Linked DNA regions of Homo sapiens. The protein of the gene in region 1 purifies or fractionates together with the protein of each later gene. This does not show direct contact. Each region holds a gene or a part of one and is shown on either strand. Other genes may lie near its edges.

What was found.
Region 2: the proteins of TDRKH (region 1) and ZNF644 purify together in Homo sapiens (affinity purification with mass spectrometry; one large-scale study listed by BioGRID and IntAct). This does not show direct contact.
Region 3: the proteins of TDRKH (region 1) and MTARC2 purify together in Homo sapiens (affinity purification with mass spectrometry; one large-scale study listed by BioGRID and IntAct). This does not show direct contact.
Region 4: the proteins of TDRKH (region 1) and ESPL1 purify together in Homo sapiens (affinity purification with mass spectrometry; one large-scale study listed by BioGRID and IntAct). This does not show direct contact.
Region 5: the proteins of TDRKH (region 1) and SENP1 purify together in Homo sapiens (affinity purification with mass spectrometry; one large-scale study listed by BioGRID and IntAct). This does not show direct contact.

What each region holds. Positions count from the first base shown.
Region 1 is NC_000001.11:151,783,279-151,789,747, reverse strand, and holds part of TDRKH (tudor and KH domain-containing protein), read left to right. Parts: intron 1-6,469. UniProt on the Homo sapiens protein: Participates in the primary piRNA biogenesis pathway and is required during spermatogenesis to repress transposable elements and prevent their mobilization, which is essential for the germline integrity.
Region 2 is NC_000001.11:91,013,697-91,020,165, reverse strand, and holds part of ZNF644 (zinc finger protein 644), read left to right. Parts: exon of another isoform or gene 1-183; intron 184-6,469.
Region 3 is NC_000001.11:220,756,582-220,763,050, forward strand, and holds part of MTARC2 (mitochondrial amidoxime reducing component 2 isoform a precursor), read left to right. Parts: intron 1-5,076; coding exon 5,077-5,239; intron 5,240-6,328; coding exon 6,329-6,469. UniProt on the Homo sapiens protein: Catalyzes the reduction of N-oxygenated molecules, acting as a counterpart of cytochrome P450 and flavin-containing monooxygenases in metabolic cycles.
Region 4 is NC_000012.12:53,269,598-53,276,066, reverse strand, and holds part of ESPL1 (separin), read right to left. Parts: coding exon 5,982-6,469; intron 5,690-5,981; coding exon 5,585-5,689; intron 5,390-5,584; coding exon 5,269-5,389; intron 3,347-5,268; coding exon 3,210-3,346; intron 1,251-3,209; coding exon 1,057-1,250; intron 1-1,056. UniProt on the Homo sapiens protein: Caspase-like protease, which plays a central role in the chromosome segregation by cleaving the SCC1/RAD21 subunit of the cohesin complex at the onset of anaphase. During most of the cell cycle, it is inactivated by different mechanisms.
Region 5 is NC_000012.12:48,066,235-48,072,703, reverse strand, and holds part of SENP1 (sentrin-specific protease 1), read left to right. Parts: intron 1-982; coding exon 983-1,037; intron 1,038-5,738; coding exon 5,739-5,777; intron 5,778-6,469. UniProt on the Homo sapiens protein: Protease that catalyzes two essential functions in the SUMO pathway.

The DNA.
Region 1 (6,469 bases):
TTCTGGTTATTAGGAGATACTGGAATGAGTTATCTATGCTTTCATGGAGCTAACAATGTGATTTGACTTCTCATCACATCCTATTTGACTCCTGTCATTTTAAATGATAAAGTAAGCCTTAGCGATGCATATCAGATAGTTTTTGGCAATTGTTCAATACAAATGTCAGGAAATTTCAAAGTTAGCTTTCACTGAAAACCATTATCTAACCACATTCCTCACTGAACAATGATCCTCATCTTCTCTTCTTAGCTTCCCCTAGAAACTGTGGTCTTAAGTTCTAGTATTTTCCTCCTTCCCATTCAATTTTTAAGTAATAAAATCAAACACAAGCTAGCAGTCAGTACTATGCAGTTATCCCCGTTTACATTATATTATTTTCCATTTCTCTTTAAGAGAAACTTATAGCTGAAAGGATATGAAAATTGTGAACAAAACCATAGTGACAGATCAAGTAGAGTCTCATTTTTTGAGACATCAGCTGATAACTCAATTAGCACAAATTCATTTGTAATGTTTGAAGAGGAGTTAGTGAAATTTACCTTTTGCTTCAAATAGAAGTCGGCCAAAACCGCACCTATAATCTCAGCTACGCCGGACGACTGCGGGAGTTCAAGGCTGCAGTGAGCTATTATCATTCACTGCATTCCATCCTGGGTGACAGACCAAGGCTCTGTCTCTAAATAAACAACAACAAACTCTCCAATTCATCTGTTCTCCATCTCCATCATTGACACCTGGACTAGGCCCTGATTGGTCTCCTGCAGCCACGGTTGCTGCCTTCAATTCATTCTCCTCACCACGGACACAGATGTTAATCAAGAATGACAAGCATGGCATGTGTTATCAAGGGATATTGGGGATTCTGTGGAAACCCATAGCAATGTAATTCAACCCAGTGTAGGGGGTCGAGATTGAGGGGCCTTGGCTGCAGAGACCCCTCTGCACTTGATCTTGATAGTGTCAGAACTGGAAAACAAAAGTGCTGCTAGTCCTTTGGGCCTCTGTAAAGAGGTGTGATTATGACTGGCCATCAAAACAGACTTATTTCTATTGCACACTGTATTGTGTAGAAATGACTAATGAGCTGTGTGATCTTAGATCAATCCTTTTCTATCCCTTAGCCGCAGTTTCCCAAATTGCAACGTTATTAATGGAATCAAATAAGTTCTGTAGTCCCTTCTAGTTATAAAATCTTGTGATTTCTATGCCCCATAAGCATCAATTATGGCCAGTTTTTAAAAGCAGACAGCATGAAAATACAGATCCAGTTTATTCTTGTTCACAGGGCTAGATTTCAGTTTCCCAAAGCCCTTAAGACCTAAAGACTCCTGCCTGTCAAGATCTTCCTTGCCAGACAGGAAACTCCATGAAGGCAGCTGCCAAATCTATCTTGACTGTTGTGTCCCGAGGGTCAAGCACACATCAGAATTCGATATTTATTGGCTTGAATAAATGTCCATTTAGTGCAGTTCATTCATGTAGTATAGGTTTGCGGAAGAAAAGTGAGTTGTATTTTAATGAGATGATTTTCAACTATACACCATCTAAGAAATAAACCTTAAGGTTCTAGCTACTTTCAACTGTCGCATTGACCAAGAATTTATACAGTTGTCCCTCCCTTCGTTATTTGCAGGGGATTGGTTCCAGGAACCCTGCAGAACCCAAATCCATAGATGCTCATGTCCCTTGTATAAGATGCATATTATTTGTATATAACCTACACACATCTTGCCCTATACTTTTTTTTTTTAAACCCCTTGAGACAAATTCTCGCTCTGTTGCCCAGGGTGGAGTGCAGTGGTGTCATCAGTTTACTGCAGCTTCCACCTCCTGGGCTCAAGCCATCTCCCACCTCGGCCTCCTGAGTAGCTGGAACTACAGGTGTGCAACACCACGCCTAGCTAATTTTTTTTTTTTTTTTTTTTTTTTTTTTTTTGTAGAAACAGAGTCTCACTATGTTGCCCAGGCTAGTCTTGAATACTTGGTCTCAAGCAGTCCTCCTACCTTAGCCTCTCAAAGTGCTGGGATTAACAGGCATGAGCCACTGTGCCCAGCCTGTTTTGGTGTTTATGTTTCCTAGACTATGAATATTTCCAAGTAGAAATTCTTCTTCCTCCTTCTGTCCCCAACGTGCTCAGCACACAAGAAAGAGCTAGCACTATTTAACCAAGATGCATTAATAATGGAAACAAGCTTTGCACTTTAGTGGTCATATAAGAAAATACCTAAGCCAGGCGCAGTGGCTCACGCCTGTAATCCCAGCACTTTGGGAGGCCGAGGTGGGCGGATCATGAGGTCAGCAGTTCGAGACCATCCTGGCCAATATGGTGAAACCCTGTCTCTACTAAAAATACATAAATTAGCTGGGCATGGTGGCAGGTGCCTGTCGTCCCAGCTACTCATTAGGCTGAGGCAGAAGAATCGCTTGAACCCGGGAGGCAGAGGTTGCAGTGAGCTGAGATCGTGCCACTGCACTCCAGCCTGGGCAACAGAGTGAGACTCCGTCTCAAAAAATATATATATCTAAAGTAATCAGGGGACAAAAGAAGTCAAATTCTTTCTAGACACCAAGAATAAACCATCTCAATGTAGGAAAGTAGCAGTTTGGGAGGTGTGTATTCAAGAATTATTTAAGTCAAAAATCTCCTTTATGAAACAACTTGTTTCCTTTCCTTTGGTATATACAACGATGCTTATATAATACCATCCAAACTTTCAGGATGGTGAAAGCTTTTATTTGCAGTGTATTTAAAAAAAGAGAAGCTTATCCAATGACTTGGGAAAAGAACCTCATAAATGAAAACAAACAGCCTACATTAACCTCAACCCTTTCTGTCCTACATTCTAAAAAGGTCGGGAGAGAACAGTATTCCCTCAGATTGATAGTCTCTAAAAATGATATACTGAATTCACTGAGTAACTAATGACCCAAAATAGACGACACCCTTGAAAAGAGGTACCCATCCCCCACCTCGGGTAGTAAAAGGCCGTTTTATTATTTGCTCAGGCTTTTGAGTCCGGGCAAGAAGGTGGATTAAATTTGTTTAAAACCAGGATATAGAAAAAATAGATTTGGCAAACTTCTGGTAGTTCTCTGAAGAACTTTATTCAGTTCTGTTGATCAGTAAAGCTGTGAGGCCAGATGCAAATTCTGGTCATCTGTATGACAGTGTAGTAGTCTACCCTTCTCCGTGGTTTTGCTTTCACTTACCCATAGTCAATCCTGGTCCAAAAAGATTAAATGGGAAGTTCCATACGTAAACAATTCTTAAGTTTTAAATTGTGCACCATTCTGACTAGCATGGTGAAATCTCCATCCTGGCCCAGACGAGAATCCTGCCTTTGTCCAGCATATCCATGCTGTATATGCTACCCGCCTCTTAGTCACTTAGTAGCCATCTTGGTTATCAGATTGAAAAAACCTATAGTTTTCAGTACTCCAAGGCATCCACTGGGGTTCTTGGAACATATTCCTCGAGGATAAGAGAGGATGACTGTTGTAAGAAATCTACCTCCAGCCTCCCTTACCTGACTATATCTGCTCCTCAGTGAGATTTCGGTGCTAGATGTTCTCCTTTCTCTCTTTACTCTTCCAGATTGACTGTGCTTTCCCTGAAAGCCTAAGTTTTATTCCACAGTAGGTTTTGTATTAATGAGTATGTTTTTAGCCTTACCAGGATATAGCCAGTTTTTCCCCCCAGGGTGAAATACATTTTTGTTTATTATAATTATTTGGGTTGAATTTTTGTACCTGGAGGTAAATTATGGCATAAGTTACATTTACTCATTTTTAAGCAAATCTTATTTAAAGCCAGCTTGCTTTGTTCTACTAGATTGTAATATCTGGAAATACAGATATTTAGTTTTCAGTTTTTTATCACCTATCTTTAGTTTTTTAGTCTTCAGTGTTTTTTTAACCACCTACAGTACTTTCTACCAGTATTAATTTTGAATTGAATATGTTGATCAAAATAAAGAATAAAAATACAGGTGCTGTTACCCTAAGAGCTTAGGTAAAAGGAAGAGTGGGGAAGGATTTCTAAAATCACTTTACAAGGTTTTTTACAAGCAAGAATAACCCAGACTCTGGGTTAGAGATTAGATAACCTCTTCAAGCATGGGTACTCTTCTATGGGATTAATATTTCCTGCCTTACAGGGTTATATGACTGTAAAATAAAATTATGTAATTTGCCTGGCATAGTAGCTACTCAACACATTATCTCTTCATTTTTGTGTCTTTAGTGCCACAGTAGCATCTAGCACATAGTACTTACTCCAGCTCTTGTGTTGAGAATAAACTGAATGGACAATGGCAAAGGCAGGAACGTAATTAAGCAATGCAGTAATCTAGGGAAAAGATAATGGTGTTTTAGAGCAGGGTCATAGAACTGCAAAGAGAAAAAGTGGTCAGATTCTGGATGATTTGAAGGTAGAGCAAATAAGATTTGTTGACAGGCTAGGTGTGCAGTGTGAGAGAGAGGATGACTAAGGGAGTAAGAGAATGCAGTCGAGGCAGAGCACAGTGGTTCACACCTGTAATCTCAGCACTTTGGAAGGCTGAGGTTGGTGGATCACTTGAGCCCAGGAGTTTGAGACCAGCCTGGGCAACATGGTGAAACCCTTTCTCTACAAAAAATACAAAAATTAGCCGGGCATGGTGGCATGCACCTGTAGTCTCAGCTACTGGGAGGCTGAGAGATGGGAGGATTGCTTGAGTCCAGAGGTTGTGGCTGCAGTGAGCCATGGTTGCGCCACTGCACTCCAGCCTGGCAACAGAGAAAGACCTTGTCTCAAAAAAAAAAAAAAAAACGAATTGCCATTTGCTGAGATGGCAAAGATTATGGGAAGGGGGTGAATCAGGAGCTCAGTGTTAAGTTTGAGATGTCTATTAGACATCAAATGGAGATCCATGTAGGCAGTTGAGAAAGGTCCTAAATGGATCTATTAATTTGGAAGTTATCAGCATCTAGATAGGAGTTAAAGCCAGTCCGTGAATGAGACTTGAGATCACCAAGAAAGTGAGGTAGAACAGAGAAGAGGGCGAAGGACAGATCCCTGAGGCACTCCAGTGTTTAGAGGTTAGAAAAATGTGAAGAAACCAGCAACTGGGAGACTGATGGAATAGCCAGAAAGGAAAGAGGAAAACCAGGAGGGTGTGCTATGGAGAATGTGTTTCAGAGAAGAGGGAATCATCAGCTGTGCCAAATACTGTGGGGACATCTGGTAAGATGAAAACTGAGAATCGATCTTTGGATTGAGCAGTATGAAATCATTGGTGACTCTGATGTGAGCAGTTAGAGTGGATTTAAGAAGAGAACTTGAGGACAGATATATTGACACTCGAGTTTTCCTTTAAAAGGAAGAAAAGAAATGGGAAGTAGTTGAAGTGAAATCCAGGAAGGGTTTTCTTTAAGAACAGAGAATGTTTGTCTGCTGATGGGACTATCCAGTAGAGAGGAAAGAAAACGTTAATCATGTAGTAGAAGCAAGGAGAACTTGTGGAGCAGTGCTTTTATGAAAGACTTCAGTGCTAGGAGCAGAGACAGTTCATCTGTGGTCACAGGAGAGAACAGCAAGCATTTAGGCACAGGTGGAGGAAGGTGGGCAAATGTGTAGAAGCTTGTGGATATTTTCTCTGAATGCTCTCCTTTTTTAGTGAAATAGCAAGGACCTCAGTTGAGAGAGGTTGGAGGAGGCAGCACGAGACGTTTGAGTGGAGAGGGAGGCTGAGAAACTATGTGGAATAAGGAAATATAATGAGGAACATGTTAAAATTTGCTTGGCAGCAAAATGAAGATACAGTGTCAAAGAGAAACTCAGCACAAAAGCCTGTAAGAAGTCCACTGCTGTGGTCTAAATAAGATTTGAGCTTCTGAATCAGGCCAGATGCAGCATTGTTGATGTCATTAGCATATAGGTAGTAATTGAACCCACATATGTGGATGAAATGGTCTAAAGAGAGCAGAGTGACATTAACAATTGATGGCACAGGATGAGAAGCCCAAACTTGGAAGGACCCTCCAGGGAAATAAGAGGAAACCAAGAGAAAGAGGGCACAGAAACCAAGGAAAGAGTTTTGTGGAGGGAGTGGCCACCTTCCTGCTACCGCAGAGAGATGGGTGAGATAAGGCTCCATGCATGACCTGTAGGTTGATTATCTGGGAAGTTACAGTTTTGGCGATGGAGCAGGGAAGAACCCCATTTCACTGTTCGTTAAGGAGTAAATAAATAGAAACCAAAAGTAGAGACAGTAAATGAAGACTGTACTTCCAACAAAGATAAATAGTAAGGCCTTTACTAAGCCTGGAATGGCATTTCTTGCAGAGGCAGCAGCTTCTGGAAAGCCCTGGAGGCATAAAAGGACTTAGATAAGTAATTTTAAATAATTTAATATGAAATCTAAGTATATATATTTCAAATATTTGATTCATTTAATTTTTTTTGTCTTTTAAAACTGACTTGGG
Region 2 (6,469 bases), about 61 Mb from region 1:
GCAAATGTATTCCTGGATCATAAAGTTTTACAGTGGAAGCAATATCAAAGAACAACTGCTCTTACCCTCCTCTTTTACAATATATTGAGGACCAGAGATGATTAAGTTAGTGGCATAATGGAAAATTGCCTTTCAGCCTCTACCCATTGCTGTTTGTATTTGTCATATTGCTGGGATGAGAAGGTGAATATCTACAACTAATGGTTAAAAAAACAAGGGAATGTTATTGAGAATACTTGTTAATTAAATATTGTTAGGTTCATGAGAACTTCTGTGACAATAAGTTAAAAACTTTCATATTGGCCTGGCACGGTGGCTCACGCCTGTAATCCCAGCACTTTGGGAGGCTGAGGCGAGCAGATCACGAGGTCAAGAGATCGAGACCATCCTGGCTAACATGGTGAAACCCCGTCTCTACTAAAAATGTAAAAATTTCCTGGGCGTGGTGGTGCCTATAGTCCCACCTACTCGGGAGGCTGAGGCAGGAGAATCACTTGAACCCGGAAGGCAGAGGTTGCAGAGAGCTGAGATCGTGGCACTGCACTCCAGTCTGGTGACACAGCAAGACTACATCTCAAAACAAAAAAACAAAAAAACTTTCATATTCTGTGGTTAACTTGGTTTTTAAAGTGACTTTCAGTGAAACAAAATCAGGTACAAAATACAGAAATATCAGATAGTTTCAGAGCAATGTTGCTTTTGAATTTTAAGGTTTTCCAAATGCAGTCTTGACCCAGAAATTGAAAAATTAAAAAACAACAACCAGGGACTTGATAAATTTCTTTGAAAGTTTGAAATAACTGCTGTTATTGCCAGTTATTATGTAGGAAAAGAAATGAGATCAATGCTGAAAATAATGGTGTCTTTCATTTTGTAATAGTGTTTTGGTTGGATAAACGAATGTGCCACTCAGAATGTTCCCTTTCTTTAAAACAACTTTTTAAGACTACTACTTCTACTGAGTGGTACCTCTAAGGTCTGTTAGGAAATTGAACAAGTAGTGACAGTCATTTATGGTGGAACCCTATAGTGATTTTTAACTTCTTTGAATGTCAGATTTAGCAAAAAGTTAAATTGTTTTAAGGTTTTAAAAGTTTTTATGGGTCATATAAGGTGCTTTTAAATTACTGATTTTTGTTAGTTGATAAGCTGTTTTATAATTTTCAACATTATGTGAGTGGATTTACTTACACTTTCATTTTGTGAAAATTAGAGTCACTTTCAGGTTATTTGTAGTTATAAAGTGGTCTGTCACCTGCCAACCTTAAACATTTTCCAGTTTTAGTTTGTCATTCAAGTTATAAGAGTGTTTTGGTTGAATTGAGACTGTTAATGGGTAGCAGGAGGAGAAAAGAAAGTTTCAAAGAGAATAGAAGTGGTGGGATATCTGCAATCTAGAGAAAGGTCAGGTCCATTTTTTTTCTGTCATCCTAAATATTGTTTTTTAGTGTTACTTATTTAGACCATTTTCTCAGGATGTGATTCTGGAAGGAAAAGTGAATCTTATTCTTGGGAAGGCTTTTCAGTCAGGTCTTAAGACAATTGTAGCTTGCAGCAAATGGAGAAATTGGCATGTTGAGTTATCTAACCCTGATTTTATAGAGCACTTGTTTTAACCATTTTTTAAACTGTTTTCTAAATGTTTTAAATTAGTAACCTTGTAAAATAAAACGAGAATGAAGAGTGGATACTGTAATACTATGGATACATATTCAAATGAGCTTTTATTTACACTTATTAATCTTTCTGGTAGAGAGAATGTCTATTTCGTATATGGAGAATCTGTAAATATTGAGTAAAGTTGTCAGGTATAGCATTGACTGAAGCAGTTCTAGAAGTGGTGTTTTTGATTCAGGTTTATTAGAGGGAAATAAATAGCTGCTGTTAATAGTGCAAGCCGTTTACACCATTGAGTTTTGGGAGATTTGAGAATCATGGAACTGATGCTAGCACTAGCTCACCCTGCTGGTTGGCTAAAAGATTTCTCCTCTTCCCCTTAAGAAACAAACATGAAGATCACAGGAGACCCAGAGGGTAGTAAGACTCTAAATTAAATTCTGTCTTTCTTCAGGGAGAGGAAGTTCCCATGAAAAAGGTGTTTTCTTGTCTCTAAGGCCTTAGTTGCTGCATTATAATTTTTTTTGCAGATCTGCCAAGTTGAACCATGGAGTTACTATCCTTTCTTTTTCTTTCTTTTTGGTTGGGGGACGGAGTCTCGGTCTGTTTCCCAGGCGCGGGTGCAGTGGTGCAATCTTGGCTCACTGCAACCTCTGCCTCTCAGGTTCAAGTGATTCTCCTGTCTCAGCCTCTCAAGTAGCTGGGATTACGGGCGCCGGCCACCACACCTGGCTAATGTTTGTATTTTTAGTAGAGATGGGGTTTCATCATGTTGGCCAGGCTGGTCTCGAACTCCTGACCTCAGGTGATTCACCCGCCTTGGCCTCCCAAAGTGCTGGGATTACAGGCGTGAGCCACCGCACCTGGCAGTAGTTACTATCCTTTTTGAACTTCCTGGGAACTCTTATGTGATTATGGAAAGTTAGTATATTTTTATTCTTTTAATTTCAAGATAAGAAATCCTTTGACAATTGAGAGATGTTAGGAAGAAAAACAGCCCTGTGAGAGTAACTTTCCAGGAGGAAAAAAGCAGAGGATTTCAAGAGTAAGAGGAGGAGGAGCCTGCCAGGGCAGAAGTAGCAGCAGTGCACACTTCTCTTGGTTGGGAGAAAGTGAGACTGGATTAAGATTAGCGTTTCTGGGAGATTTTCTTTCCCCTCTCCTACTAATCTTGGCCCTACCTCTTCTGTCTGCTAGCTGTGGTCTTCCCATTTCATTTGGAATCCTTTGAACTGAGATTTTGTAAGTAAAAATAAAGATAAATGATTTGTTCCTTGAAGCTTAATTCTGTTAGCCTAGATTTTGGTAGAATTGAAGCTGGGTTAGAGTGATGAAGGCAGATTTTATGTGTTAAGCCTTTTGGTATGTGTATCTTTTTTTTAAGTTGAAAATACAGCTTTTAAAATACTTTATATAGGCCGGGTGTGGAGGCTCACACCTGTAATCCCAGCACTTTGGGAGGCCAAGGTGGGTGGATCACTTGAGGTCAGGAGTTTGAGACCAGCCTGGTCAACATGATGAAACCCTGTCTCTACCAAAAATACAAAAATTAGCTGGGCATGGTGGCACGTGCCTGTAGTCCCAGCTACTTGGGAGGCCGAGGCAGGAGAATCACTTGAACCCAGGAGGCAGAGGCTTCAGTGAGCAGAGATGCCGTGCCACTGCACTCTAGCCTGGGTGACAGAGTGAGACCCTGTCTCAAATAAAAAAGACTTTGTTCAAACTCTAGAAACGTAAGTATATTTTGAGCCAAATAGACAACTGAAAATTAAAAATACCTAATAAAGTGTTGATTAAAATTCTTTACACTTTACAAAGCATGTTTACCTGTAGTCTATCAATTATTTTATCTAATTTTTTGAAAAGATTAATATTTTACTTAAAAGTATCTCTTTCATTAGTTTCTTGAGGAAGATATTAAATACAGTCATGTGCAGCATAATGATGTTCTTTGGTCAATAGTGGACTGCATTTACGATGGTGGTCCCATAAGATTGTAATACTGTATTTTTACTGTATTTTATGTTCTATGTTTAGATACACAAATACTAAACAGTTATGTTACAGTTGTGTGTGGTATTCAGTACAATAACATGCTTTACAGGAGCATGTTGTAGCCTAGGAACAATAGGCTATACCAAGTAGCCTAGGTGTGTAAGTAGGCTCTACCATCTAGGTTTGTTTGAGTACACTTTGTGATGTTTGCACAGTGACCAAATTGCCTAAGAATGCATCTCTCAGAATGTACATCCATGCTTAAGTGATGTATGACTGTAAAACTAGTACTTTCAGAGCACCATTTATTGGGGAGGAGAGGGGTAATTCCCAATTTATTGTTGGTTTGTGAAGGTGGGTAAAAGGCTTCACAGAGTTGGAATTAATTGCCTTTTGTTTGCTACTGACTCACTAAATACTTTACACACAGACACACACACACATAGAATCACAATTGCAATTGTAATTATGCATATATAAAGAGGCAGGATATGATAAAGTTTGAAAGTGTAAGCCTTGAAGTAAAATTGACAGGGTTCAGATTTAGCTGTGTGAGCACTAGGCAAGTGGAATTAGTAATTACCATCTTCAAAGAGGTTTAGGGTTGATATTACATAATTCATGTAAAGTCCTTAGCTTTCTGGCATACAATGCTGAGTAAAGTAAGTGTTACCTGTTAGAGTAATAATAGTTATTATTACCATTGTTTAATTATTCTTTCTACATTAACTTGAGATTTTCACCTGTGAGTGATTTGCAGTTGTATACTTTTGCTAATGTCCCATTTTAAGCCATGCCGATAAAGACAAGGTTGTTATAGAGGAAGTGAGAGGTAGGCATCAAAGTGTGCCTTCTCTGATTCTAGCAGCAGAATCTTATAACCAGGTTAAATATTTCAGGAATGCATTCCCAGCACTGTCAGCAGATGAGTAGATACACTTGGGAATGAGTACATTTTAATGAAGTTATTTCCCAGCCAGTGCATTGGTTTGTCTTTGTTATAACATGCTGAATTTCTTCACTCTCCTTTCAATTTTTGACTGTGAGGCCATGTGGTGACTATTAGTAGAGAGAAGAAGGTGAGTGGCTATGCGTATTTGTAATGTACGTATAAACCCAAGATGAGAGTGAGGAGTGGCTGGTAGGTAGCTAGATTGAGGCGGGTGGAATATAATCTTTTCATTGGATAGTCTGAGTTGGGAATTTCCCAAACAGCATTTCCTTTTGCTCTTTTCCTCTCCACACTTTGTTTTGTATATGTCTGTGCTGGTATGGTGTTAAAGTTATCAGTTCCCCCTCTTTAATTTTCTTTCTACCACCAACCTCCTCCTAGCACAAACACGGATTTTAAGCTTATAAGCAAATTTGTCAAAGACAGCTAGTAAAAATAATTTTAGGTTCATTTGAGGAGGGGTACTAGTATGAAATTGTAAGTTTTTCATTTATGCTTGAAAAATACAGCAATTTGGAAAGTGAGGGAGGGGAAGTCACCCATAATCTTATTACCATTATATAATTATTAGTATTAAAGACAGATGACGTTAATTAAGCATCTACTATATTCTTTTAATAATCCTGTGATGTATATATTCCCACTTTACATGTGAGGAAACACATCCACTTAATAATGGAGTAGCCAAGTTTGAACCTAGGTATATCTTGAGAAGGTCTAGAGAGGAGACCTTTCTGTTCTACCTTCCTGTTCTTCTTACATATATATCCTTTTACCTAGTTGTTACACAATTTGTAAGTTTCATCTCCTAGTTTTAAAACTTAGCATTATAAAAACATTTTTCTCCCCCCCCTTATTTCAAGTGGTGTCGTATTGCTCTCATTGTCTATTCATACCACCATATAAAGGCTCTTTGTCTTGGCTGCTGGACATTGGTACAATGATGTTGACCAAAATGGATGCTGCCCTTTACTGAGTGACTAAGATGAAAAAAATCAGGCTTAATCAGAACTAATACTTTATGGGATTTGGATTGCTACAGGTTTAATCATGCTATCTATCCTTGCTGGTGGGACATTTGACTTAGAATTGTATATAAGTAAAATATAGATGAAAAATTGTATAATTTATAGCTATCTGAAAACAACTTTTTTTTAATATTTGAACACTTTGAAATGCCTTACACTTCCTTGTTAAAAATCTTAAAGGGATATTAAAATTAAATGGCACTTAATTACTATTAGTAATTCCTAATATAATATTTAATTCATAAAAGAAAAAAGCTTAATGTTGAATTCTGGCACTCATCGGGAAGATGACATTATATGTTAAGAGATAATTTGTGGGGCATAGTAACTATAGTTAATATTGCATACTTGAAAGTTGCTAGGAGAGTACATTTTAAGTGTTCACACCACAAAATATAACTATGTGAGGTAATGCATGTGTTAATTAGCTAGATTTAACCATTGCATAATTTATATGTATTTCAAAATGTGTTGTACACCATAAATATATACAATTTGTATTTATCAGTTTAAGAAGAAGAAGAAGAAAAAGGTAATTTGTGGGCATTTATAAATAGATTGTATAGGTCAGCACTGCCCAATAGAAATATAAGTTGAGCCACAAATGCAATTTTAGATTTTCTATAGCCACATCAAAAAATAAAATAAATAGGTGAAATTTTATTAATGGATTTTTATTTAACCCAGTATCTAAATACTATTATTTCATCATATAAACATGATTGAACTATTTTACATTTTTTCTTTTTTTAACCATGTTAAGTCTTCAAAATCTGTTAGTATTACATACTTAAAGCACATCTCAATTCAGACTAGCCAGAGTTCAGGTATTCAGTAGCCACATGAAGTTACTGTATTGGACAGTGCAATTACAGAT
Region 3 (6,469 bases), about 69 Mb from region 1:
GCTTTTCCATAAATGACAGGTTTTGAGCCCATCAGTTCATTGAAGAGGAAGTGTGTAGCCATCTCGGCTTAATTGGAAGACATGTGAAGGTGATGGGTAAATACGTAGCTGACATGTGTCACATGAGTAATATAGGTGTTGCCCTGTAGACTCACTGTGTTGCCAACAGTGAGCAAGTTTTTCCCCCAAGGCTCTTTACCAGCTAAATAGGCAGAAATCTAGGGGGACACTCACCTTCCTGGATGGAAAGAGGGAAAGAGGAAGACCTTGCAGGTGAGTTGCCTGGGTCTGAAAAAGACAGCAATTGCAGCCTATTCTTTTTTATTTATTTATTTTTTGAGACGGAGTTTTGCTCTTGTTGCCCAGCCTGGAGTGCAATGGCACGATCTTGGCTCACTGCAACCTCCACCTCCCAGGTTCAAGCGATTCTCCTGCCCCAGCCTCCTGAGTAGCTGGGATTAGAGGCATGTGCCATGACGCCCAGCTAATTTTGTATTTTTAGTAGAAATGGGGTTTCACCATGTTGGCCAGGCTGGTTTCGAACTCCTGACCTCAGGTGATCCACCTGCCTTGGCCTCCCAGACTTCTGGGATTGCAGGCATGAGCCACCGTGCTCAGCCTGAAGCCTCTTCTTATGTAATTCTGTTCCATGCATGAATTGTAGATCTGGATGAGGTGGGAATAGAGAGCCTGGAACCCTGGCAGTTTGGTGAAAATGATTGAGAGCTGTGCATTTGGATTGATGCAGAGGTGTAGTCAGCGCACTGCCCTCTCTAGCTGGTTAGACATGCTGTAACTAGTTCAGCCTGTATTTATAAGCTATTTTTAATGGATTCGTTGCCAAGGGAACTGCTAAAAACTGAAGAAATAACATAGATAGTGTGTTTAGCTAGTGCCAGCTGCTGTGACAAAATACCATAGTCTGGGTGGCTTAAACAACTGACATTTATTTCTCATAGTTTGGGAGGATGGGAAGTCTAAGATCGAGGTGCTGGTAGATTGGTGAGGTCCCTTTTCAGGGCTGTAGATGGCCACTTCTCGTTATGTCCTCACATGACCTTCCCTGGTGCCTGCATGAAGAGAGAAAGCAATCTTGTGTTTCTTCCTCTTATAAGGGTGCCAATCCCAGCATGAGGGCTCCACCTCATCTAACCCTAATTACCTCCCATAGGCCCCACATTGGGGGTGAGGGTGTCAACAAAGGAATTCTGGGGAGACACAAACATTTAGCCCCTAACAGATGGTAAGCGACAGAGTGATTACCACAGCCAGCCCACCAGAGCCCAGAATCAAATAACATAAACCAACAACCTCAAGTTAGTAAAAAGAAAAGTCCCTTCACAGACATTTGGACAAGGCTGAAGTGTTATGAATTTTATATTATTCTACACTTATTTTATTTTATTATTATTATTATTTTTGAGATGGAGTCTCGCTCTGTCACCCGGGCTGGAGTGCAGTGGCGCGATCTCAACTCGCTGTAACCTCTGCCTCCTGGGTTCAAGTGATTCTCCTGCCTCAGCCTCCTGAGTAGCTGGGACTACAGGCGCACGCCACCACGCCCAGCTAATTTTTGTATTTTTAGCAGAGACGGGATTTCACCATGTTGGCTACCATGGTCTCGATCTCCTGACCTTGTGATCCACCCGCCTCGGCTTCCCAAAGTGCAGGGATTACAGGCATGAGCCACCACGCCCGGCCACTTATTTTTTTTAAACTTTCACTGTTAGTGTTTTGAATCAGCTTTCCCTGTTCACCTTGTGTGGTGTTAAGTTTTTTTATACTAATTATAGACCAGTATGGCTTCTTGATTATCACAAGTATTTATGAATAATTATTACCTTTTTTTTTTTTTGAGATGGAGTTTCGCTCTTGTTGCCCGGGCTAGAGTGCGATGGCACGATCTCAGCTCACTGCAACCTCCATCTCCCAGGCTCAAGTGATTCTCCTGCCTCAGCCTCCTGAGTAGCTGGGACTACAGGCATGCACCACCACACCCGGCTAATTTTTGTATTTTAGTAGAGGTGGGGTTTCACCATGTTGGCCAGGTTGTTCTCGAACTCCTGACCTCAAAGTATCCACCTGCCTTGGCCTCCCAAAGTGCTGGGATTACAGGCATCAGCCACCGTGCACGGCCTGATTATTGTCTTAAAAGGTGAAGCTAATGTTTTAAAGTAGGGGGAAGTAAGACATGACTTCAACCCTATATTGAATTTGTGGTTCAATTTACAGAAAATTGATGTGAAAATATGTGTGTGTGTGTGTGTGTCTGGGTGTGTGTGTGTGTGTATTAAATAAAGCACTTGCAAGAGGACCTGGTATACAGTAAGCACTTAACTGGATATTAGGTCTTAAATAGCTATTATCTTTATTGTATTAATCCACCTTATCTATGAATATTATTTTTCTTCACTTGTTTGTGTCTTATCTCTTTAATAAAGTTTTATAATTTTATCTGTAATGTGATTTTACATGTTTTGTTAGATTTAGTCCTAAACATTTACTCTTTTCTTCCACTTTTACATAGCAAGTCTTAAAAACACTTTTTTTGTTTGCTGTGTAAGATTGGTATTATTTATTCTTTAATTATTGATAGAACTTGCCAGTAAAAGTATCTGGATTTTCTTTGTAAGAGTCTATTCAAGTTTTTATGTCCTCTTACATAATTTTTAGTGAGTTACTTTTGATTAGTGAGTTAAGAGATTGCTTACTAATGAAGTTTTATTGAACCCAGAGTGAGGGTCAGTTTTTTCTATGGAATGTTGCTGATGAGACATTTTGTGTCAAAATGTAGAAGAGAGTGGACTTTGCAGAAAATTCTGCAAGAATTGGAGAAGATGGCATGGCAGAGGGAGCGATACCATCCAGTGCAGGGATGGGAGACAGGGCTGGTGGAGGGATGCCTTCCATCGGGGGGAAGGGGCTCCGGTTAATCAGTATTCCATTGCCCTGTTGGGGGCTTTTCTGCTTTTCAAAGTGCCACCCATAAGCTTTCCCGGGTGGGTGGAGACTGTGAGTAATATGTGTGCACTTATGTACAAGTGCTGTTCTGAGGGGATGAGGGAAGAGCTCCATCCAGGAGCATGTACTTAGGGAACTGCTGAACAGTGGGATGGAATCAGTTTTAGGGGAAAGGCAGAAGGCCAGGAGAGGATCATGAGATGTCTGTAGAGCCAAGAATTAATCAGAGGTGAAACAGTGGCTTCGAGAAGGGGGTTTAGAGGGAAGGAAAAGGCCCAAGAAATGTGAAAGGAACAGCACTGAGATTTGACAGTAGATAGGAGAGGAGGTGAGAGGTTGGGAGTCTCTACCCTCAGACCAGGATTGTGAGTTGCAGGGTACACAGGGGTTCATCTAACTGGGAGCACCTCAGGTGTCCACATTGAAATCCTTCACATGCATCGCCTCAGGAGTCCTCACACTGGTATGAGCCTTCCCACGGGGAGGGGCAAGCCCTTCCCATGGTAGATGAGGGTAGGGGAATCAATTTCCAGATCCTGTGAATTATATCTACAATCAGCAAGTTCTCCGGTCTCACCATAAACATTTCTTCTTTGTACAGAGGAAAGGCTTTTGTCTGTCCACCCCACATCTTACTAGGGGCATTGCCCTTGGAGGGAAAAACATACAGGGACCCAAACAATGAAAAATGCTGGTGTTGATAAAGAGGGTGATGTTAATGACAGGGTAAAATGGTTGTACAAGTCAGTGGTTCCAACTCTTTGTCTTACATTAAAATGAAGGGGCCTCCAGTGAAATTGTTGCTGATAAATCATTAAAAATACTTTTTGATGACAAATCACTATGTGAAATATATTGCCTGGAGATTCAAGGAATAAGTGAAATTACTATAACTCCCATTTCTATCTATTTGTTTGTGTGAAAAATTCCTCAGGGCTTATTTAAAAGAAAGAAAATTGATACTGAACCTTGTCTTATTCTAGCAATATGTGAGATTCATTCAGAGTTTTATGGATATTTTATGGGGTTCATTAAGCATTTGATTTCAAATAAAATTTCACTTTTTAAGTTCATGAATTATAAAAATATATAGCATATCTATTTTGTTATGATCAATTGTATATAAATCATAATTGTAATGATAACTCAATCCTGAAAACATTTCTTCACACTTGAAAGCTTAAGAAACAAAACAAATTTAATTGATTCAAAAGAAATACAGTAAGTGAGCGATAGCCATAAAAATACATTAGGATAAAATTACATAAGTAAAATAATATACATATGTGTTCATGAATAAAAAGAGGAATAATACAAAAATGTTTAAATGGATAATGGTGGATATCAAACCAACATGGCATTTAGATCCCGTTACACACTTTTAAAAGCATAATGTAATCATTTTATTTTAAATGTCAGTGTTTAGAATTCAATGGAAATGATGTCTTTCAGAACAAATTAAACTTATGATGAAAAAGTTTACCTGTCAACTTATAGTTCTGTGAAGGGTCCATAGCTTTTTAAAACTCCATTAGGGGAATTTAAGCAAGAAAACCTTGAGGGCCGCTGTGTTATCTAAAGTTATCTGTTCCCACCAAGTGACGTAGGTAGGTACCATATAATTATTTCCAATTTACAACTGAAGACAGGTCAGAGGAGTTAAATGATTTGCTTATGGTCACAGAACTAGAGAATGGCCGAGTTCCAATTTGACCCAGGTCTGTTGGATTCTAAGCTCAGGGTGCATCTGCCACAGGGCAGCCCCTCTCCTCTTGTGAAAGTGTCCTAAATCCTTACGTTCATGGACCAGCAGCTTAGGCATACAGAAGCTTGTTGGGAATGCAGAATCTCAGACTCTAACCCAGACCTACTGAACCAGAATCTGCATTCAAACAAGATCCTGGAGGATTTGCACATACATTAGGGTTTGGGTAGCTCTTCCCCAGAGCACACTCTACTCCTTTCTCTTGCACTTCTGCCCAGCTTTGACCCAGGGACCACTTAACAGCCCTCTGGGATGGTCAGGTCCCAACAGTCCAGCTGTTCATTTTTGACACCATCCCTCAGTGTATTGATATAAGTAAGTAACCTGGTGTTCTTTTGTGACCTTTCCAGGATATTTGGCCTTGACATTAAAGGCAGAGACTGTGGCAATGAGGCAGCTAAGTGGTTCACCAACTTCTTGAAAACTGAAGCGTATAGATTGGTTCAATTTGAGACAAACATGAAGGGAAGAACATCAAGAAAACTTCTCCCCACTCTTGATCAGAATTTCCAGGTGAGCTTACAGAGAGTTTACCTTCACTGCTACTAGTCACCCTTCTCTTTCTGGCTTCCTTCCCAGTTGATAAAGAGCCTCTCTTGGGACCTCAGTTAAGAAAATATGATAATGGCCCTGGTGAGTGATAATGAGGGCACAGCCTAGGCAGAGGTACCAGGGGATGGAAAAGAAGGTGGATATGAGAGGTGTCTCAAAAGTGGGATCTCTAGGGTGTATGGAGGATTGAATATGGGAGATATTGTGGAGGGGGGAGCCAGGGGTGACTCCCAGGTAGATGGAGATGCAAGAGAAAACTGGCTGGAGAAACAAAAGTGAGAAGTTTGTTTGGGACTAAATCCAAGTTTCCTGGAATTATAGAAGCGGACTTTGTTCTGACCCGCCCCTCACAATCTGTGACATGTGCTTATTTCAGGTGCTGGCGAGGCGCCTCCCCCTAAGGAAAACTGTCCCCTGAGCACCTACAGCACCTGGCAGCTATTTTTCAAATTATCAGATAATACAGAGTGCCGACATGTACGATGGTTTATACTAGGCTCAGTGCAAAAGACCAAAGCCTCTGATTCTGCCATGAGCTAAGGTTTAAAATACAAGGACCTCAGGGAATTTCTCTCCATAGCCCCTAAACTACAAGCTCCTTGAGGGCAGGGGTTTTTATCTGCTTTCTTTACTGCTGTTTCCCCACTAGAACAGTGCCTGGTAGGTGCTCAGTAAATGCCTAGTGAGTGAATGGTGTTGTTGAGGAAATTATTACTGGAGTATAGCTGATTGGCAGCAGGTCCTCGCTGTTTGAGGATGATGGGGGAAGGGGGTCGCTGCTGGAGTGGGAGTGGGAACCCAGGAAGAGGAAGCCTGGTGAGTGACATTGGCCCAGAGCCGGCCCTGGCTGCAGCCCTGTCCCTGTGTATGGGCAGGAACTGCTCCAGCTCCTGGCCACTGCAAGCCCAAACTCACATCTCTCTCCTTCCTGAACACTGCTCCCCTCTTCTGCACTGAAGAGGTTTTGCTTCTGGACATTACTTAGCTTTGTAGTTGGTCTAGGCCATTTTGTGGAGTGGTGGGGCCTGACTATCCTGTGTTCTTGGCAAGGTGGCCTACCCAGACTACTGCCCGCTCCTGATCATGACAGATGCCTCCCTGGTAGATTTGAATACCAGGATGGAGAAGAAAATGAAAATGGAGAATTTCAGGCCAAATATTGTGGTGACCGGCTGTGATGCTTTTGAGGAG
Region 4 (6,469 bases), on another chromosome or scaffold:
CACATTCGGCTAATATTTTTTAAGTAGAGTCAAGGTCTCGCTTTGTTGCCCAGGCTCCCTGAGATCTTTACAAAGTAGATTCCTTCACATCCTCAGGTCTCATCTATCACTTCTTCAAAAAGGGTTTTCCTAAATAACCCACCTCAAGTTGCTCCCTCTTTTAGCAAATCAGTTTAATTGTCTTCATAGAGCATACGTGAAGGCTGGGCGCACTGGCTCATGCCTGTAATCCTAGCACTTTGGGAGGCCAAGGTGGAAGGATCACTTGAGCTCAGGAGTTCAAGACCAGCCTAGGCAACATAGTGAGACCTTGTCTCTATTAAAAAAAAAAAAAAAAAAAGGAACAGACACAAAATGCAAAATGTACTTTTTAAAAATATCTCCCCAAGTAGAATATAAGCTCCATGAAAGCAAGACCACTGTCACCACTATACCCCCCAAGTAGCACAGTGGCTAGCATACAGTGGGCACTCAATGAATAACTAATGAATGAAGGAATTAGTATTTTTCAGACATAAAGATGAAAGGACATGACCATGAGTACCAAAAGCCACCCTATCCATGGGAGAAACATGGTTGACCCCCTCCCCAACTCACTTTTTTTTTGAGATGGAGTCTCCCTCTGTCACCCAGGCTGGAGTGCAGTGGCACGATCTCGGCTCACTGCAACCTCCGCCTCCCGGGTTCACGCCATTCTCCTGCCTCAGCCTCCCGAGTAGCTGGGACTACAGGCACCCGCCACCACGCCCAGCTAATTTTTGTATTTTTAGTAGAGATGGGGTTTCACCGTATTAGCCAGGATGGTCTCGATCTCCTGACCTCATGATCTGCCCGCCTCGGCCTCCCAAAGTGCTGGGATTACATGTGTGCTGGGATTACATGTGTGAGCCACTGTGCACGGCCAATGCCCAGCTAATTTTTGTATTTGTAGTAGAGACGGGGTTTCACCATGTTGGCCATGGTCTCAAACTCCTGACCTCAAGTGATCCACCCGCCTCGGCTTCCCAAAGTGCTGGGATTACAAGCATGAGCCACTGCGTCTGGCCCTCAACTCACTTTAGCTGTAGCTCCTTGTCTCCAGCCCTGGCCGCATCCATCTTGACCCGAACCCAGAAAGTGACTGGCTCAGCCATGTGTTCAGGGCTACAGGGTTGCAGGGCTGCCAGCCACAAAATCACCATCTTGCAGCCCTGGGCCTGTTTACCCAGTTTCTTCAAACTCTCTACTTGTAGCCGGAAGCACCTGTGCAACTGACCAGAGAAAGGGAACAGACCAAACTGGAGAGGAACCAGTGAGTGTGTATGGTGGAAGGGGATATGCATGCAATAGGTACATACACCACATGAGGGGGCGGGGTTGGCAGGTGGGCCTCCTGAGCCACACCCACCCAAGGCAGGAGACACCTAAGAATGAAATACTCTGAGTGCCTTCAACTCAGAGGCTGCAATCCACTCCACCCCTATGTTCATCATCCACACCCTTGAAAACCTGCTTCTCCTGTAATCCTTCTCAGCAAATGGCACTGCCTTCTCCTGAGTAAGAAATGTGGGGCCATCTCTGATGTTCCCTTCTCTCGCTCTCCCTCCCGCCAGTCACCTACCAGGTTAATCCTTGGCTTCTCGCACCGATCCACTGCATTCCATCCCTCGTGCAGCTGCTTCAGTTCAGCCCACCCTTCCCTGCCTAGAATACTATAGCAGCCTGATTACCCGGTCTTTTCTCCTGCACTCCATTCATCACAGCGAAGTCAGGGAAATCCAAAATGCCTGTCTGCTGTCATGCCTCCACTTAAATCCTTTAGAGGCTTATCATCTCAGTTAAGATGAAACCCAAGCCCCTCTATGACTCATCTTGCTTGCCAATCCCGCCAATGCATCAGTTCACAGGTATTCTTGCTTAAGAACACTGGTTCTTGCCCAGCGCGGTGGCTTGCGCCGGTAATCCCAGCACTTTGGGAGGCCGAGGCGGGTGGATCATGAGGTCAGGAGTTCAAGACCAGCCCGGCCAAGATGATGAAACCCCCGTCTCTACTAAAAATACAAAAATTAGCCAGGCATGGTGGCGCATGCCTATAATCCCAGCTACTCAGGAGGCTGAGGCAGAGAATTGCTTGAACCCAGGAGGTGGAGGTTGCAGTGAGCCGAGATCGTGCCACTGCACTCCAGCCTGGGTGACAAAGCAAGAGCAAGACTCAGTCTCCAAAAAAAAAAAAAAAAAAAAAAAAAAAAAACCAAAAAACCAAGAACCCAGGTTCTCACTCTCCTTGCTCAAAGGACCACCTGGGGGATCTTTGAAAATATTCAGATGTGAGATGGAGTCTTGCTCTGTAGCCCAGGCTGGAGTACAGTAGCACAATCTCGGCTCACTGCAAACTCCACCTCCTGGGTTCAGGCAATTCTCCTGCCTCAGCCTCCAAAGTAGCTGGGATTACAGGCACATGCCACCACGCCTGGCTAATGTTTGTATTTTCAGTAGAGACGGGGTTTCACCATGTTGGACAGGCTGGTCTCAAACTCCAGACCTCAGGTGATCCACCTGCCTCAGCCTCCCAAAGTGCTGGAATTATAGGCGTGAGCCATCACGCCCGGCAAACACTAGAGATTCTGATGCAATTAACTCGGGGCAGACATTAGAATTTTCTTAAAGGTCACTCAGGTGATTCTAATGTGCAGCTTGGCTGGAAACCAGTAGCTTAGGACCAGGCTAAATATAAAAAGTGAGTCAGGCCGGCTGCGGTGGCTCACACCTGTAATCCCAGCACTTTGGGAGGCTGAGGCAGGCGGATCACCTGAGGTCTGGAGTTTGAGACCAGCCTGGCCAACCAAAATGGTGAAACCCCGTCTCTACAAAAAATACAAAAATTAGCTGGGCGTGGTGGTGGGCACCTGTAATCCCAGCTACTTGGGAGGCTGAGGCAGGAGAATTGCTTGAACCTTTGCTGAGGCAAAGGTTGCAGTGAGCCAAGATTGTGCCACTGCACTCCAGCCTGGGCGACAGAGCGAGACTCGTCTCAAAAAAAAAAAAAAAAAAAAATGAGTCAACAGTAAGTAACAGTACAGTGAGGTTTGGGAAACACTGCTCCAGATACTGGTGTCAACATGCTGCTATTAACCTCCCACTCCAAGGCAGGGTGCTGGTGAGGCCCTTCCCCGCTCCCCCCGCTCCCCAACCACATAAGCTCCTTTCCTGCATCTCTCATTCCCTTGTACCTTCTCAGGAGGCACCTCGGGATAAGTGCCTGGCTTCACCAAACCCAGGTGCTGACAGAGCGGCTCAGAGATGGCACAGGCCTCGGCATAGAGCTTGTGACTATAGAAGCTGTAGGCCAAATTACTGGTGTAAGAAGCTGCAGGGGAGAAAAGGCACAATTGACCATAGGAAAGGCTCCCACCACCCTCTCCTCCTGGAGAGGCAGCAGAGATCAGCTGGATCTGTGGTCAGTTCAGCAGCTTCCAGATCAGACAGGAACCCCTACTGCTAGGAATGGGGAAGGGGCGGCTCTCCCCTTCCTGCCCCAAATAGGCCCATGCCCTTCACACCACTCAGCCCATCTGCACTCATTTTACAAACGAGACCCCCTCCTGCCTCAGCACTGGCTGTTTCTTCTGCCAGGGATGTTCTTTTCCAGGAACCCACATGGCTGACTCCCTCACATCCTCCAAGCCTTTGCTCATGTCACCCTCTCAATGAGGTCTACCCTGACCACCTGATTTAAGGTGGTAACTTGCCCCCCGTCATGCACCTTAGACTCCCAATTCCCTTTCTTATCCTGCTCTACTTTTCCTTTCCCCCACATTTCTTATCACGTTCTAATATGTTGATAATTCACTTATTTACTGAATCTGTTTATCTTTTCCCCCCAAACTAGAACGTGGCTCCATGAGGGAAGGAAACTTTGTTTTGCTTACCGACACATCCAAGTACTCCAAATAGTGCGTTGCACACAGTGAGTACTCAACAAATTTTTTTTTTTTTTTTTTGAGACAGAGTCTTGCTCTGTCGCTCAGACTGGAGAGCAGTGGCACGATCTTGGCTCACTGCAAGCTCCACCTCCCGGGTTCACACCATTCTCCTGCCTCAGCCTCCTGAGTAGCTGGGAGTACAGGCGCCTGCCACCACGCCCGGCTAATTTTTTGTATTTTTAGTAGAGACGGGGTTTCACTGTTAGCCAGGATGGTCTCGATCTCCTGACCTCGTTATCCGCCCGCCTCGGCCTCCCAAAGTGCTGGGATTACAGGCGTGAGCCACTGCGCCCGGCAACAAATATTTGCTGAATAAATGATAATAACTTATTTATGCAGCTTCTTGGCCATCAACATAGATGACTGGGAGAAAATAAAGTCAGTCTTCAGTACTCTGTGGGAAGAATTCTCCTTTTTTTTTGAGATGGAGTTTCGCTCTTGTTGCCCAGGCTGGAGTGCCCTCTTGCCCAGGCTGGAGTGCAGTGGTGCAATCTTGGCTCACTGCAACCTCCACCTTGCAGGTTCAAGCGACTCTCCTGCCTCAGCCTACCAAGTAGCTGGGATTACAGGCATGCACCACCTTGCCTGGCTAGTTTTCTATTTTTAGTAGAGACAGGGTTTCAGGGAAGCCAAGGTGGGCAGATCACTCGAGTCCAGGAGTTCAAGACCAGCCTGGACAATATGGCCAGACATCATCTCTACAAAAAATACAAAAATTAGCCAGGCATAGTGGTGCGCGCCTGCAGTCCCAGCTACTTGGGAGGCTGAGGCAGGAGAGTCGCTTGAACCTGCAAGGTGAGCTCGTTGCGGGGCTGAGGTGGGAGGATCGCTTGAGCCTGGGAGGTTGAGACTGTGTTGAGCCGTGATTGTGCCAGTGCACTCCAGCCTAGGTGACAGAGCAAGACCTTGTCTCAAAAAAAAAAAAAAAAAAACACTTAAATATACAGAAAGGTCATTTGTAATGATTTCTGGATTCTGATAAGTGAAGAAAAGGAAAAAAAAACATTAAAAAATATAGAAATAAAAAAATATGTTGAAAGGTCATAAGGTTGCATATTAGGTGCAACTGTTAATGCCAAGTTAGATTCCAGTCGAGGAAATAGTGTCTGCTGTTGTAAGTTAGCTTCATCACTTCTCTACTGGTGTTAAACACAGAGTAGCTGGTACTTATAAACATTTCTCTCACTGCCTCCTTGAACCATAAGGAACCCTCACAGTGGTCAGAACCACGCAGCAAGTACTATTCACCTGCCTAATGGGTGATGACCCTCCCACAAACTCTGTGCCTGGGACCCAGGGCACTAACCGGTCATCCCCATGTGGTCCGTCAGCTCTTGGCCCGACAGGCCCTCTAAGGCCTCCAGCATCCAGACAACGGTAGATTTACAACTGTCCACTAGTTGGGTCAGGTCAGCCAAATCAACTATCTGAAGGGACAAGAAGGGTTTGAGAGTGAGGAGTCATGCTGGGTCCAAGATGACCTCCACCGCACTCCACACCCAAAGCCAAGCAACCCCAAAGCTGTTTGAGGGCAGTGGAGCAACCCCAAAGCTGTTTGAGGGCAGTGGAGCAACCCCAAACCCTATGAGCCTAGTCCAGGTACCTTGATTCCCAGACAGTACCTGACAGCCTTGGGCAAAGTCATAAACCACCACAGTGTAGAGGTGAAGTCCCTGAAAGTACATCTGAAGAAAAGACTGCTGTTGCTTGGAGGAGCCCCCATACACCTGAGGAAGGAAGCGGAAGGTTGGTATGAGGAGTAGAGATAAAGAGGGCTCCAAGCTGAAGACTGACCCGGAGTCCTGGAGAGCTGACAGAGCCCAGGGAGCACGAGGAAGGACATCCAGAAGGGCCACTGCCCTCTCAGGATAGACTAGGCTGTTTGCTGGCTCGCTAGGCACTGTCCAGAGAGCAGCTTAACAAGGAGGGAGCCAGGACCTCCAGATCTTGCCAAATACCCTAGGCTGGTAGTGAGTCCACAGACCACGTCCCCACCCTACCTCCAGGTCCTTAACTCACACCATCATCCCGCAGCTGCTGCAGAAGAGAGCAGTACCCTCCAAGAAAAGCAAAGAGGCTCAGAATGGCATCAAGTCTATAGCGCCTCTTGGTGCCTCGTTCCAGGCCTGAAAGGAAGAACTGGCAGCTCTCATACAATGCCCGAAGTGGGGGTGATGGTGCCTCCATACTCTTGCTCAGGACAGCTGATGCCTTGATCAGAAGCTTGGCCACTGCCTGAGGTCCTTCCTCCCCAACCTGCAGCAGCTTAACCCCCAGCTGACATAGCTGAAGGCTAGGGGCTAGATTGGTGTTCCTTAGGTAACTGTGAGCCTTCTCCACTGCGCTGATGGCTTTGTCATGGTGGCGGCTCCAGCAAAAGCGACGGCAGTGTTCCAAGGTGAGCTCCAAGAGGCAGAGGGCCCTCTGGGGAGAAAGAAGCCCAGAAGAGCTCCCTCTCTCACCCACCAAGGCTCTGATCACGTGCCTGGAGAGCAGGTCATCTAGGA
Region 5 (6,469 bases), on another chromosome or scaffold:
TTTTTTCTTATTAAATCAAAAACTTTAACCTTTTCACTTAAAGGAAGTAGTGTTTTTTGTTTTTGTTTTTGTTTTTGTTTGTTTTTGAGACTGAGTGTCACTCTGTTGCTCAGGCTGGAGTACAGTGGGACCATCTTGGTTCACTGCAACCTCGCATGTCCTGGGTTCAAGCGATTCTGCTGCCTCAGCCTCCTGAGTAGCTGGGATTACAGGTGTGAGCCATTATGCCCAGCTAATTTTTGTATTCTTAGCAGAGACAGGTTTCACCATGTTGGCCAGGCTGGGGAAGCACTTTTTACGGCTTCTCTTTGGCATACCTGAATTGCCAACATCATTACTTTTGCCTTTTGGGGACATTATTAAGTAAGGGTTACTGAACACAAGCACTGCTATACTGAGACAGTCAATTGGATGACTGAGGTGACTACTAAATGACAGGTGGTGCATACAACATGGATATGCTGGACAAAGGGATGATTTCATGCCTGAAATAGAGCTGGATAGAGATTTTTATCACATTACTTGGAATGGCATGCAATTTAAAATTTACTAATTATTTCTGGAATTTTCCATTTAATATATTTGGACCGCAGTTAACTATGCGTAACTGAAACCATAGAAACCAAAATTGCAGATAGAGGACTACCATGAAGACTTTTAAGGAATCCTGCCATGTTCTTGTTCTCCTGAAACAGACAGGAAGCACAGGGAGCAAGTGCAGCCTAGGAGGAAATTCTGAAGGGCAAATATGTTTGTTATTTCCCAGGGATTTTCTTATTTGTGAAGCAAATTCTTCACTAAGACCTATTTCTGTTCTCAGTGACAATGGACTTGCCTCTCTCTCTCTCCCATCTAACCTTTGTTCTTATGTTATTTTTGTGGAAATAAAATATAGCAAAGTATGGGAACTTAAACTAAGATATCTAGAAAGTATAACTTTGTGGAGTTTTATTACTAATGAAATGCTCTTGTGTTTCTTTAGGATCAGACTCTGTGATTTTACTGAAAGTGAAAGATTCCCAGACTCCAACTCCCAGGTAAACTTTGGAAAAAGCTTGTTCTTTATTAATTAATTAATATATCTTTTTGAGACGGAGTCTCGCTCTGTTGCCCAGGCTGGAGTGTAGTGGCGCGATCTTGGTTCACTGCAACCTCCACCTCCCTGGTTCAAGCAATTCTTCTGCCTCAGCCTCCCGAGTAGCTAGGATTACAGGCGCCCGCCACCACGCCCAGCTAATTTTTGTATTTTTAGTAGAGATGGGGTTTTGCTGTGTTGGCCAGGCTGGTCTCGAACTCCTGACCTCAAGTGATCCACCTGCCTCGGCCTCCCAAAGTGCTGGGATTACAGGCGTGAGCCACCATGCCTGGCCTAAAAGTTTCTTCTTAACATATTGTTTTCCCTTTCTTTAATCACAGCTTTTTCACTAAAAGTTACATAATGTAAAACTACCTCAATTCAGACCTTTCTCACGTATTACTTGAATTATTTTAGTGGCTTTATAATTGTTCTTCCTTCAGCCTCTATTTTGTTCTTCATTCCGTCTTCCACCATACCATGTTCTTGAAACAATTTTTCTGCCTTGCTCTTTTTTCATTTGTTTTTGTTTTTGTTTTTGTTTTGAGACAGGGTCTTGCTCTGTCACCCAGGCAAGAGTGCAGTGGCACAATCATGGCTCACTGGAGCTTTGAACTCCTGGGCTCAAGTGATCCTCTTGCCTCAGCTGGGACCACATATGCATGCCACCATACTTGGCTAACTTTTAAATTTTTCTTTTGTAGAGACGGGATCTTGCTATGTTGACCAGGCTGGTTTTGTACTCCTAGCCTCAAGCGATCCTCCTAACTTGGCCTTCCAAAGTGCTGGGATCGTAGGTGTGAGCCACTGCACCCGGCCTGCTGTGTTCTTTAGTCCATCTTCCATGCTGCAATCAGAGTGATCTTTCAGAATTCATGTCTGATCATTCATTAAAGGGGTTTAATGATTATTTGTTAACCTCCTTCAAGGGTGGTTTATCAGACATTGAATTAAGCTCAGGCTCCTTACTATGGTATACAAAGCACTTCTTTCACAAGCCTCACTTTCTCACTTTTAACAAATATTTACTGAGAGCCTACTGTGTGCCAGGTACTAGTATAAATATTGAGGATAATAGGGAACAATGTGAAGTCCCTATTCTCAAGGAGCTTGCATTCTACTTGAGGGGAAGGATGAAGGACAATGTGAAGTCCCTATGCTCAAGGAGCTTGCATTCTACTTGAGGGGAAGGATAAACAAATGTATATGCCTTGTGATAAGTGCTATGAAGAAAATTGAAGCAGGGTAATATATAGAGTAGGATTGGGAGGATACTATTTGTATAGGGTGGTCATGGAAAGTCTCTGATAAAGTGACTTGAGCAGAGACATGATGGAGGTAAGAGGGAGCCATATGGAAATATGGGACTCTTTCATGTGTTTTTATAAGCTGGACTATTTTCAGTTTGCAAATACAATAAGCATTTCTTACCTTCACATTCAGTGTTCTTTTTGCCTGGAATGTCCTCCGTACCTCAACTTTGTCTGTCAGTAGTGTTTTATCTTTTAGGTCTCAACTCACATGTGAACTTCTGCATGAAACTTTACTTATCTGGAGGTATCAAATACTTCTTCCTCTGTAATACAGTAATAGTAATCCATAGTAACCATTACTATGATTGCTATGCCTTTGCCATATATGGCTTTGGGAATTCAATTGCTAGGATGAGAATAATATCAGTTTTCCGTTGAGAAGATTAAGAGTAATGAAATATTCTTTCTCATCTCAGTTCCCCTACTTCTTTGCAGCTCCCCATATGTTCTAAGCTTTAAATATTTCTTAAAATTCTCTATTTGTTAAGTCTTTTGGGGAGACTTCATAGTTTGGATTCTTTATTTCTTACATCTTTTTTGGAGTCAGATCTGCCTTCTGATCTTGGGTTGGAAAAGGCTTCATGTAGCTTTGGACAAGTTACTCTTATGAACCTCAGTTTCCTTATCAATAAAATGCCAGTATTGATACCTTACACTTAATTGTGAAGATTAACTTACAGATAAAACACTTATTTTTATAAGTGCTTCACATGAAATGCCACAAGATGCATGCAACTTTCTTGGGAAGAAGTTGATCTCTCAGGTAAAGAGTTGATCTCAGTTCCTTAATGGTTCTTTACTAAGACTGCCTTTCCTTTACGGAGGATTTCCCCTAGTGATGACTAAAGAATGAGATGGCAGGAGAAATGGTCTGTTGGGTAAGGCTGTTTGAGCAATGCTCTTTGTCAAAGTTGGTGCCTACTCTGCTGAGGCTTGGTTTATTGGCTCTCTACTCTTAATTCTCCACTACTGCCTCTCAGTTAAGTTCCAGTAATGAAGATCTGCTTTTATTTCCCAGAATATGCTATGCTGTGTCATACCTCTTTGCCTTTATACATTCTGATCCTTCTGTCTGGATGTCCCTTTCTCTCTCTGTCTACTTGGTAAGCTCTTATTTTGCTTCCTTTTCTTTCTTTCTTTTTTTTTTTTTTTTTTTTTTTTTTGTGACAGAGTCTTGCTCTATCATCCAGGCTGGAGTGCAGTGGCACAATCTCTGCTCACTGCAACCTCCGCCTCCCGGGTTCAAGTGATTCTCGTGCCTTACCCTCCAGGGTAGCTGGGATTACAGGCATATGCCACCACACCCAGCTAATTTTTGTATTTTTAGTGGAGATTGGGTTTCACCATGTTGGCCAAGCTGGTCTCGAACTCCTGACCTCCGGTGTTCCACCCACCTCAGCCTCCCAAAGTGCTGGGATTACAGGCATGAGCCACTGTGCCTGGCCTTAATTTTGCTTTTCAAAATCTCATCCAGGTGTTATTTTTTTTTTCTCAGAAGATTTCTTTGACTTTGCCAGATAATGTTAGTTTTTCCCTCCATCCTTCTACCTTGTTTGTTACTAATACTTTTGTATCTGTCACCCATTGCTGGTCATAGTGCTTGGCATATGATGGGTGCTCAGTAAATAAATCTTTGTTAAACAAATGAATTTCCTAGATAGCCTGAAGTGCTCTCTTGAGTAGCCCAAGTACTTATTCCTCCCCCGCTTTTTTTTAATGCTTTCATCTATTGAAAGGCACAGTCGAAAGAACACAGTCTTTGGAATTGGACAGATAAGATTTCTAATCCTAGCCTTTCAAGAGAAATTATCTTTTTGAACCTCCTTTTTCATTTCTGTACAGTATGAGTAATAATTCTTTTTTATATATTATGTTGAGGTTTAAATAGTATAGGGATTTTCATTAGGCTTAACTAATACATAAAACATCTAGAGCAGAGTTTTACATGTAGAGCACTAAGTATGTGCTCAAAAACATTTGCAGTTATTATTACTATATGCCTCAATTATATGAGAAATAATGCATCTCTTTGGAAAAGCAGATTTTCCCTGCATTTTGTTTTCCGGAGCCAGTGGATACCTTGATCCATTGAAGAAAACTGCTTGTCCCTACATTACTTGTTTATTCAAGAAATACTATATGGCTGGGCATGGTGGCTCATGCCTGTAATCCTAGCACTTTGGGAAGGCCAAGGTGGATGGATCACCGGAGGTCATGAGTTCGAGACCAGCCTGGCCAACATGGTGAAACCTCGTCTCTACTAAAATAAAAATAAAAAAAAGAAAAAATTAGCCAGGTGTGGTGGCGGGTGCCTGTAATCCCAGCTACTCAGGAGGCTGAGGCAGGAGAATCTCTTGAACCCGAGAGGTGGAGGTTGCAGTGAGCCGAGATTGTGCCACTGTACTCCAGCCTGGGCAACAGAGTGAGAGTCAAAAAACAAACAAACAACACTAAATGCCTACTCTGTGCCAAGCACTATTCTAGTTGCAGATCATTTTTTTTTTTTTAAGAGACAGAATCTCACTATGTTGCCCAGGCTGGTCTTGAACTCTTGGCTCAAGCGATTCTCCCACCTCAGCGTCCTAAAGCACTGGGATTACAGGAATGAGCCACCATGCCTGGCCTCTGATCCAGGTCTCTTAACTCCCAATTTGATGCTCTGTTTACTTGTTCTCTATATTTAATAGTTTTCTTTGGAAAAGTGTTCACTCTTCTTCTTTGTGTTTCTGTGATAGATCCTGCCTAGTTAGGAGTTTGGAGATAAGGAAGTTTGAGAAAAACAAGAGGCTCTAGGACAATTAATCATGTCTGTGGCTCTGCTCAGCATATCACTTGGGTTGTCAGCAGAGCCACATGGACCTAGAATTGGCCTGTCATCTTTGGAAGGAAGTTGTGTTGCTGATTCTCTGCTTTGGCTCATTGGCTTGTTAGCCATTTGATGTAGATTATTTTGTGTGTGGGGATTTTTAATAAATCTTTCAATCTGAGTCATTTGGGAAGAGCAATGTTCTAGCTTAATGTATTATTTTGAGAAGTGATGTCCTCTTTCACGTAATGTTGGTCTCATGCAAGTAGGGAGCTATGCCAAATGTAGTATCTCTGCTGAACTTTGGGTCACCTTTTTAACTAATATGTATCCATATGATTTTAACTAATATGTATGCATAAGGATTGTGTCTCCTTAATTCCTAGTTACAATTATTTTATGTCATTTAGATTCCTTTTACTTATTCCATACTTGTAAAGCACTCATATAAACAATTTAAATGATTGTTTTTATTGATGAAAATATTTTAATTTTCTCATAAGCCTCCTGCTCATTTGTCAAATTTTTCTTTTCCTACCCATAGTTCTACTTTCTTCCAGGCAGAGCTGTGGATCAAAGAATTGTAAGTTATTTTTGGTATCATTTTTCCTTCTCAATCAGTTCATTTTTAGTTAGAAGAAATCAAACAATTAGCTAATCATCCTGCTTATTTTTTGCCAATAAGAAGTACCTGTTTAGGCTGGGCGCGGTGGCTCACGCCTGTAATTCCAGCATTTTGGGAGGCTGAGGCAGGTGGATCATCTGAGGTCAGGAGTTCAAGACCAGCCTGGCCTTCATGGTGAAACCTCATCTCTACTAAAAATACAAAAATTGGCTGGGCATGGTGGCACGCGCCTGTAATCCTAGCTACTTGGAAGGCTGAGGCGGGAGGATTGCTTGAACCTGGGAGGTGGAGGTTGCAGTGAGCCGAGATCACGCCACTGCACTCCAGCCTGGGCAACAGAGTAAGACTCCATCTCAAAAAAAAAAAAAAAGAAGTGCCTGTTTATACTTTTAAGTTGTTGGGTTTTCAAAATATTGTTGGAGTTGGAACATTTCTATACTTATGTTTATTAAATCTATAACAATTGTTGAAGCTAAATTAAATTGGAAAAATAGAGTTAGCTATTATATAATAGGGAAAATAAATGATCCTATTTTGGCATTTGTAAAACTAATTTATTGAATAATTCATATTTCTGGACTTTGCAAAATCACTGAAAGCATTTAGTCTCACTTAAGGAACTTAAGTTATCCAAACCCCTCGGTCTCGGT